Linked DNA regions of Homo sapiens. The protein of the gene in region 2 purifies or fractionates together with the protein of the main gene of each other region. This does not show direct contact. Each region holds a gene or a part of one and is shown on either strand. Other genes may lie near its edges.

Region 1 (3,500 bases), on a different chromosome or scaffold from region 2:
AGAACACTATATTCATTATCAGTCACTCCCCATTTCCCTCTTCCCGAAGGCTCTGCAACCATTAAACTGCTTTCTATTTCTACAAATTTGCCTATTCTGGAAGTTTCATATAAATGGTATCATACTGTAGTGGCCTTTCATTTGACAGGCTTCTTCACTGGTGTAATATTTTCAAGGCTTATCCATGTTGTCACATATATCATACTTCATTCCTTTTTTTCTGACTGCAGCCTCGACCTCCAGAGTTCAAGGGATCCTCCCACCTCAGCCTCCCAAGTGCATAACCATGCCTCCCAAATGTGTACCACCATGCCCAGCTAATTTTTCTATCTTTTGTAGAGATGGGGTTTTGCTATGTCACCCAGGTTGATCTTGAACTCCTGGGTTCGAGCGATCTGCCTGCCTTGGGATTACAGGTGTGAGCCATGGTACCTGGCCCCTTCATTCCTTTTTATTGCTGAATATTCCATTCTATGGGCAATACCACATTTTGTTTATCCTTTCATCAGGTGATGGACATTTGGGTTGTTTCTAGTGTTTGGCTATTATAAATAATGCTATATGAACACTCATGAATGCATTTGTGTGTGGACATATACTTTGAATTCTCGTAGGCATATACTTAGGAGTAGAATTGCTTGAATTTTTGTTAACTCTATGTTTATCATTTTTAAAGAACTGCCAAATTGTTTTCCAAAGTGGCTGCACTTGTGAGGGCGATCTGGCTGCGACATCTGTCACCCCATTGATTGCCAGGGTTGATTTGGCTGATCTGGCTGGCTAGGCAGGTGTCCCCTTCCTCCCTCAGTGCTCCATGTGAGTCCTTCCCGAAGCTGCGTGCTCGGTTGAAGAGGACAACCATCCCAATAGAAGAGGACTGGTCTTTGGTCAAGGGTATACGAGTAGCTGCACTCCCCTGCTAGAACTTCCAAACAAGCTCTCAAGGTCCAAAGTGGCTGCACCATCTTACATTCCCACCAGCAATGTATGAGGGCTCCAGTTTCTTCAATTCTCACCAACACTTGTTTTTGTCCATTTAAAAAATTACAGCCATCCTAGTGGTTGTGATGTGGTATCTCATTCCTGGTTCCTATACCTGAAACATCCTTTCTTTCCTTGCCTATATTCACCTATTGAAAAACTATATTTCAAATAGTACCTCCTCTATGAAGCCTTTTCTTGATCACCCTAACTAAAAGTGATTGCTTCTTTTTTTAAATTCTGCAAACATTGCATATATATTTCTGGTGGTGTGTGTATTTCCCTTATATCACATTTCTTTGTATATTTGTTTTACAATTACACTAAAAAATTCCTCAATGGCAGATACAGTATTTTAGTGATCTCTGAATTCCTAGACTCCAAATCCTTCTAAGGAGGTGTGTATGAGGAGGCGAGAAGATAAGGCAGATTATGATATGTACAAAGAGGAAATATTAGTACATATTTGTGTTTTTGTTGACTTGTGTGTGTATGTATGTGTGGTGGATTAAATTTTGGGGGTACCTGCAAAATATTCCCTTGGGAAAATTACTTAATTCTAGGAACTGGGGCAACAATGGAGAAGGCCAAATCATTATGTGCTACCCTCTGATGGAAATGGGGATTATTTACTTTAAGGATTTATAATCTTAAATGGTTTTTATATCTACAGAATAATAATAAAGTTGTACAATGTTTTTACTTTAAGTTCCTTCCTATTTTCCCCACTGCATAACCCAACAAAATTTTCTACTTAAGATCAATGTACCCATACTAGAAGCCATGTGTTGAGAAGTTGTTGGATGAAGATGGCCAAAGATAGTGCTGGTATCTAGATTTGTGTCAATTTTTTCTTCGTTTTTTGTTTTTTTGAGACAAGAGTCTTGCTCTGTTGCCCAGGCTGGAGTGCAGTGGCGTGATCTCGGCTCACTGCAACCTCCGTCTCCCAGATTCAAGCAATTCTCCCTGCCTCAGCCTCCAGAGTAGCTGGGATTACAGGTGCCTGCCACCACACCTGGCTAATTTTTGTATTTTTTAGTAGAGATGGGGTTTTGCCATGTTGGCCAGGCTGGTCTCAAACTCCTGACCTCAGGTGATCTGCCCACCTCAGCCTCCCAAAGTGCAGGGATTACAGGCATGAGCCACCGCACCCAGCCAATTTGTGTCAATTTTTTAATAGTTAAATTCCATTGAAATTGAGCTGTTTTATTCATTTGAATAACTCTTGACTGAATTCAGTATTTCTGTTGTAAGCTAAAAATCACAGCTCTCTAAACCTTTTGGGGAGGATGGGATTTATTGCCATGGTATTTGTTTCTTGTATTTTTTTCCTTATTTAATTAACATATACATATTTGACCTCCGATGGTCTGCTTCTGACTCATTAGCTTTCAGAAGCAATACATATTTGGAAATATTTTTGAATCAAACCAAATATATATTGTGCTCATTTAAGATATATACCTTCATCTCTCCTAATAGATCAGTTTTTTGTTTGTTTTTTTGTTTGTTTTTTGTTTTTGTTTTTGAGACAGAGCCTTGCTCTGTCACCAGGCTGGAGTGCAGTGGCGCGATCTCGGTTCACTGCAAGCTCTGCCTCCTGGGTTCATGTCATTCTCCTGCCTCAGCCTCCCAAGTAGCTGGGATTACAGGCCCACGCCACCATGCCCAGCTAATTTATTTTTGTTTATTTAGTAGAGATGAGGTTTTAACATGTTGGCCAGGATGGTCTTGCTCTCTTGACCTCGTGATCTGCCCGTCTCAGCCTCCCAAAGTGCTGGGATTACAGGCGTGAGCCACCGTGCTCCCCGTTTTTTTTTTTGAAAGGGTCTCTCTTTGTGGCTTAGGCTAAAGTGCAGTGGCAGGATCTCCACTCACTGCAACCTCCACCCCCCGGTTCAAGCAATCCTGAAGCCTCAGCCTCTCGAGTAGCTGGGACTATGGGCATGTGCCATTATGCCTGGCTAATTTTTGTATTTTCAATAGAGACGGGGGTTTCTCCATGTTGCTCAGGCTGGTCTTGAACTCCTGACCTCAAGTGATCAGCCCGCCTTGGAAGTGCTTTGGGAAGTGCTGGGATTACAGGCGTGAGCCACCACACCCAGCCACCTTTCTTCTTTTCTTGAACCCTTTTGTGTTTTAGTAGATTTGTAATAATGGTCAATTATTATCTTTGAGCAGAAATTAACAAGTATGTTTTTGTAGTGCAATAGCTATGTATGTTTTTATAGTGCAATAAAGTTTGTGAAATGAGATTTGCCTACCAAGGTTTTCTCCTTTCAGAGGAAGAAAAAGTGGCTTTTGTTAACTGGATAAACAAAGCCCTGGAGAATGACCCTGACTGTAAGCATCTTATACCCATGAATCCCAATGATGATAGTCTTTTCAAGTCACTTGCAGATGGCATCCTTCTTTGGTGAGTTGAACTTCTGGTTAAGGAAGCTGCGTTCTTGCTGATTACATTGATGAGCATTCCATGAAAACTCCAATTCAGCTGTCCATTGTCTTTTGGAGTCAGT
Region 2 (3,852 bases):
ACAAACAGGTTTGAATTCCAGCACCAACTCTGATCAACTAATAGTAGCCTGCCTGGAGCACTGCATTAAAAAGGGCTCCAGACTATAGGAAAATATACCAAAATCAATTAACAATGTCTGCTATGGGTATGGAATAAGATATTGACCGTGCACACTATGTTTTCGCCATCCCTAATAGTCTCCACAGAGCAAGCAGTTTCTACCATCTTTCTATTTACTCTATCCTTCCCTAGACTGGTATCACTGAAAATCTCATATGGGCAATCATTCATTTTTGCCTCAGCTTCCTTTGTCTCCCAACAGTGAACTACTATTCCACAGTCTACCCATAACCAAAGTGGGGTCATTAAACTTTATTTTCCTGTCCAAAAGTAATGAAGTCTCTCTGGCATTTCCATTAAATGTAAGAATCAGAACTGGTGTCATCTCATCAGGCTCATCTTCCTCCAACCAAGATGTTCTAACCCAAACTGAAAATCTTGAAATATCTGTTTAAGAATCTTTAATGGCTTCCTATTGATTAAGAAATAAATCTAAACGCCTCAACCAGGCATTTCGAAGGCTTCCAAAATCTGGGACCATTATGCATACGAAATTGTATCATTTACCATTCTTATCCAGTTAGATTTGTCTCTTTGACCACTTCACACATGTTTATGCAACTTGGTATTACTTCCTGTCTTCTGTCCTGTATAAATTGTACTTTTGTCCAATATCCAGTTTATTGGCTAGCTACTATAGATAAATCCCTGGGCTGACCACTCAAATCTTTCTTCATGGCCCAGCACTGTGGCTTACGCCTGTAATCCCAGCACTTTGGGAGGCCGAGGTGGGCGGATCACGAGGTCAAGAGATCAAGACCATCCTGGCCAACATGGCGAAACCCCATCTCTACTAAAAATACAAAAATTAGCTGGGCATTGTGGTGCATGCCCGTAGTCACAGCTACTCAGGAGGCTGAGGCAGGAGAGTCTCTTGAACCTGGGCAGCGGAGGTTGCAGTGAGCCGAGGTTGCACCACTGCACTCCAGCCTGGTGACAGAGTAAGACCCCTTCTCAAAAAAAAATAAAAAAATAAAAAATCTTTCTTCATCATGGAGTCTTCTTCGAATATTATTCCCATCATGGTGTCCCCTTTTTCTAAACTCCTAAAACATTTAAGTTAGTATCGTCTAATACTCACACTACTATTCATTCATTCATCTATTCAGTTTAATTTATTGTAAGACTTTATTCGGGCCCTTATTTCTGTTTTACTATATGATGTTTCTAGAATAATTATTCTGAAAAACTGATATAATCATCTCTTGCCTGCTTGGTTGCCAACACCTTAATGCTCATACTCTACAGCATGGTACACAAGGTCTTTAATGACTTAACCCTAGTGCACTTCTCCAGCCTGCTCTCCCACCACTCCTCCTGTAAATCCTAAGCTCCAGCCATGAGGGATACTAAACAAATGCTGTTCTTTACTACCGCAGGCTCTTTCACATCTCATTGTCTTTACAAATATGATTTTCCATTCTCTTCACTCAATACTCCCCACCGCATTCCCAACTAGTCAACAATTCAAGCAGCACCTTGCCGTGGAACCTGCACCACCACCCATATGCATACATACCACATAACTCCTCCTCAGCACTCCCTGTTAATAACTCTATTATCATGTATTGAATATGCTTTAAGTGTGGCTCTACTTGTCTTTTTATCTACATGTCTGTGAATCACAGTGTTATTATTGCTCCTTAATTGTTAATTGTTTCATGTTTCTATCACATCTGTTTCTTGTGAGAGATGAATAAAGTATGGTGTTTCTTTTGTGTCCCCTACTTCACATAATGCCGAACACATAGTAAATATTAATAAACACCTGCTGCTTTCAATTTCTGAGAATAGCTGCCCAAACACCATCTGACAGATTCTGCAAGTGTCATATTCCTTGTTGGTCATGTGGATTCACTAACATTAACTTTTGTCTTGTGACATGAGGTAAACTTAGGATTTTGATGCAATAGGCATTGTTCATAGTCTGCTGACACACAGAGCCAGTGTCCATAATATGTACATTAAAAATAAATTAGTAACCAAAAGATCAAAACACTTGGATTTAAAATGTAGAGAAACAACATACCCAGATGAAGCAGTACATTCATCATTATGTAAGAGATGATGGAACCTGGGTGCCCAACTAACTGTGACCCTGGGCCAGTGTAAAAAGTCCCCTCCCCTCAACAGCAATAACAGCCACATTTACTGAGTCACAGTATGTGGTAAGTATACTAAGTACCTTGCATTATTTCTTTTGTAAGCATTATCTCCTTCAAACCTCCAAACAAAGTTCTGCTTATCCCCATTATAGACATGAGAAAAATGAGGTTTAGAGATATATAACCAGAAGTGGAAGTGCCAGGATTTGAACCTCACCTGACTCCAAAGCCTGTATTCTTTTCTCACTGGACTTCAACCAGTCCCTGCAAAATGGAGATGATGTAATCTATTTTTCACTACCTCAAAGGGATATGAAAAGACAAATGAGATTCACCAAAATTTAAGTATCCTCCCTCTTAAGAGGAAAAAACCAGAACATTGAGAAGTTTGAGAAATTTATGCTTATTAATTATTTTTTCCATGTATTCATATTCTATTAACAATGCTAATAGTTTTAGTAGTTAAGGTTTATTGAGCACTTATTATGTGCTAGGTAGTGTTCTAATTGCTTTGCCTGAATTATTTATTTCTCACACAACCCTACTGATATGGTTTGGCTGTGTCCCCACCCAAAAGCTCATCTTGAATTGTAATCCCCATAATCCCTACGTGTCAAGGGCAGGACCAGGTGGAGGTAATTGGATCACAGGGTTGGTTTCCCTCATGCTGTTCTCATGATAGTGAGTGAGTCTCGGGAGATCTGATGATTTTATAAGTGTCTGGCATTTCCCCTGCCTGCACTCACTCCGCCCTGCCGCCCTGTGAAGAAAGTACCTGCTTCTCCTTTGCCTTCTGCCATGATTGTAAGTTTCCTGAGGCTGCCCCAGCAATGTGGAACTGTGAGTCAATTACATCTCTTTCCTTTAAAAATTACCCAGTATCAAGTATTTCTTCACAGCAGTGTGATAACGGACTAATACACCTATAAAATAGGTCTCTGTGGCTTACAGATTAGGAAACTGAGTGGGTTTATTAGCTGAGACTAGGCTAGTAATTATTAAAGATATAATCCAAACTCAAATGATCTGACTCCAGCACCCATAATCTTAACCACCACCATATATTACCTCCTATCCATAATAAGGAGAAAAATACCCACCTCCCTAGCCACAGGATTATTGTAATGATCCAAGAAACTAAAGTTTAAAACTTCAAATAAAAGCACCTTATAGTGCTCTAAAGTACTACACAGTTGGTGTTATCTTTACATGATGAATAAGGAATCATCTGATTTACATAAAAAAGCAGCCAAGTCCCAAGCCAAATGTAAAGACAAGTTATAATTACTATAGAATACAAGACCATTTTTTAAGTGTTCAGGGAAAGAGAATTTAAAGAATCTGGATTCCTCTAAAACAGCCAATTCAACATTAAGGAGTAATGAAGCCTGAGGCAAACAGGAAAATATATGTCCAATTGTGTTTTATTTTTGTTTTTGTTTTTTTGAGTCAGTGTCTAGCTCTGTCGCCCGGGCTGGAGTACAGTGGTGCGATCTCGGCTCACTGCAAGCTCCGCCTCCCGGGTTCACGCCATTCTCCTGCCTCAGCCTCCCCAGTAGCTGGGACTACAGGCGCCCGCCACCACGCCAGGCTAATTTTTGTATTTTTAGTAGAGACGGGGTTTCACCGTGTTAGCCAGGATGGTC

Evidence for each region.
Region 1: the proteins of GALK2 (region 2) and PLS1 purify together in Homo sapiens (affinity purification with mass spectrometry; 2 studies listed by BioGRID and IntAct, with this or other methods). This does not show direct contact.

The regions. Positions count from the first base shown.
Region 1 is NC_000003.12:142,672,893-142,676,392, forward strand, and holds part of PLS1 (plastin-1), read left to right. Parts: intron 1-3,264; coding exon 3,265-3,397; intron 3,398-3,500. UniProt on the Homo sapiens protein: Actin-bundling protein. In the inner ear, it is required for stereocilia formation. Mediates liquid packing of actin filaments that is necessary for stereocilia to grow to their proper dimensions.
Region 2 is NC_000015.10:49,278,061-49,281,912, reverse strand, and holds part of GALK2 (N-acetylgalactosamine kinase), read right to left. Parts: intron 1-3,852. UniProt on the Homo sapiens protein: Acts on GalNAc. Also acts as a galactokinase when galactose is present at high concentrations. May be involved in a salvage pathway for the reutilization of free GalNAc derived from the degradation of complex carbohydrates.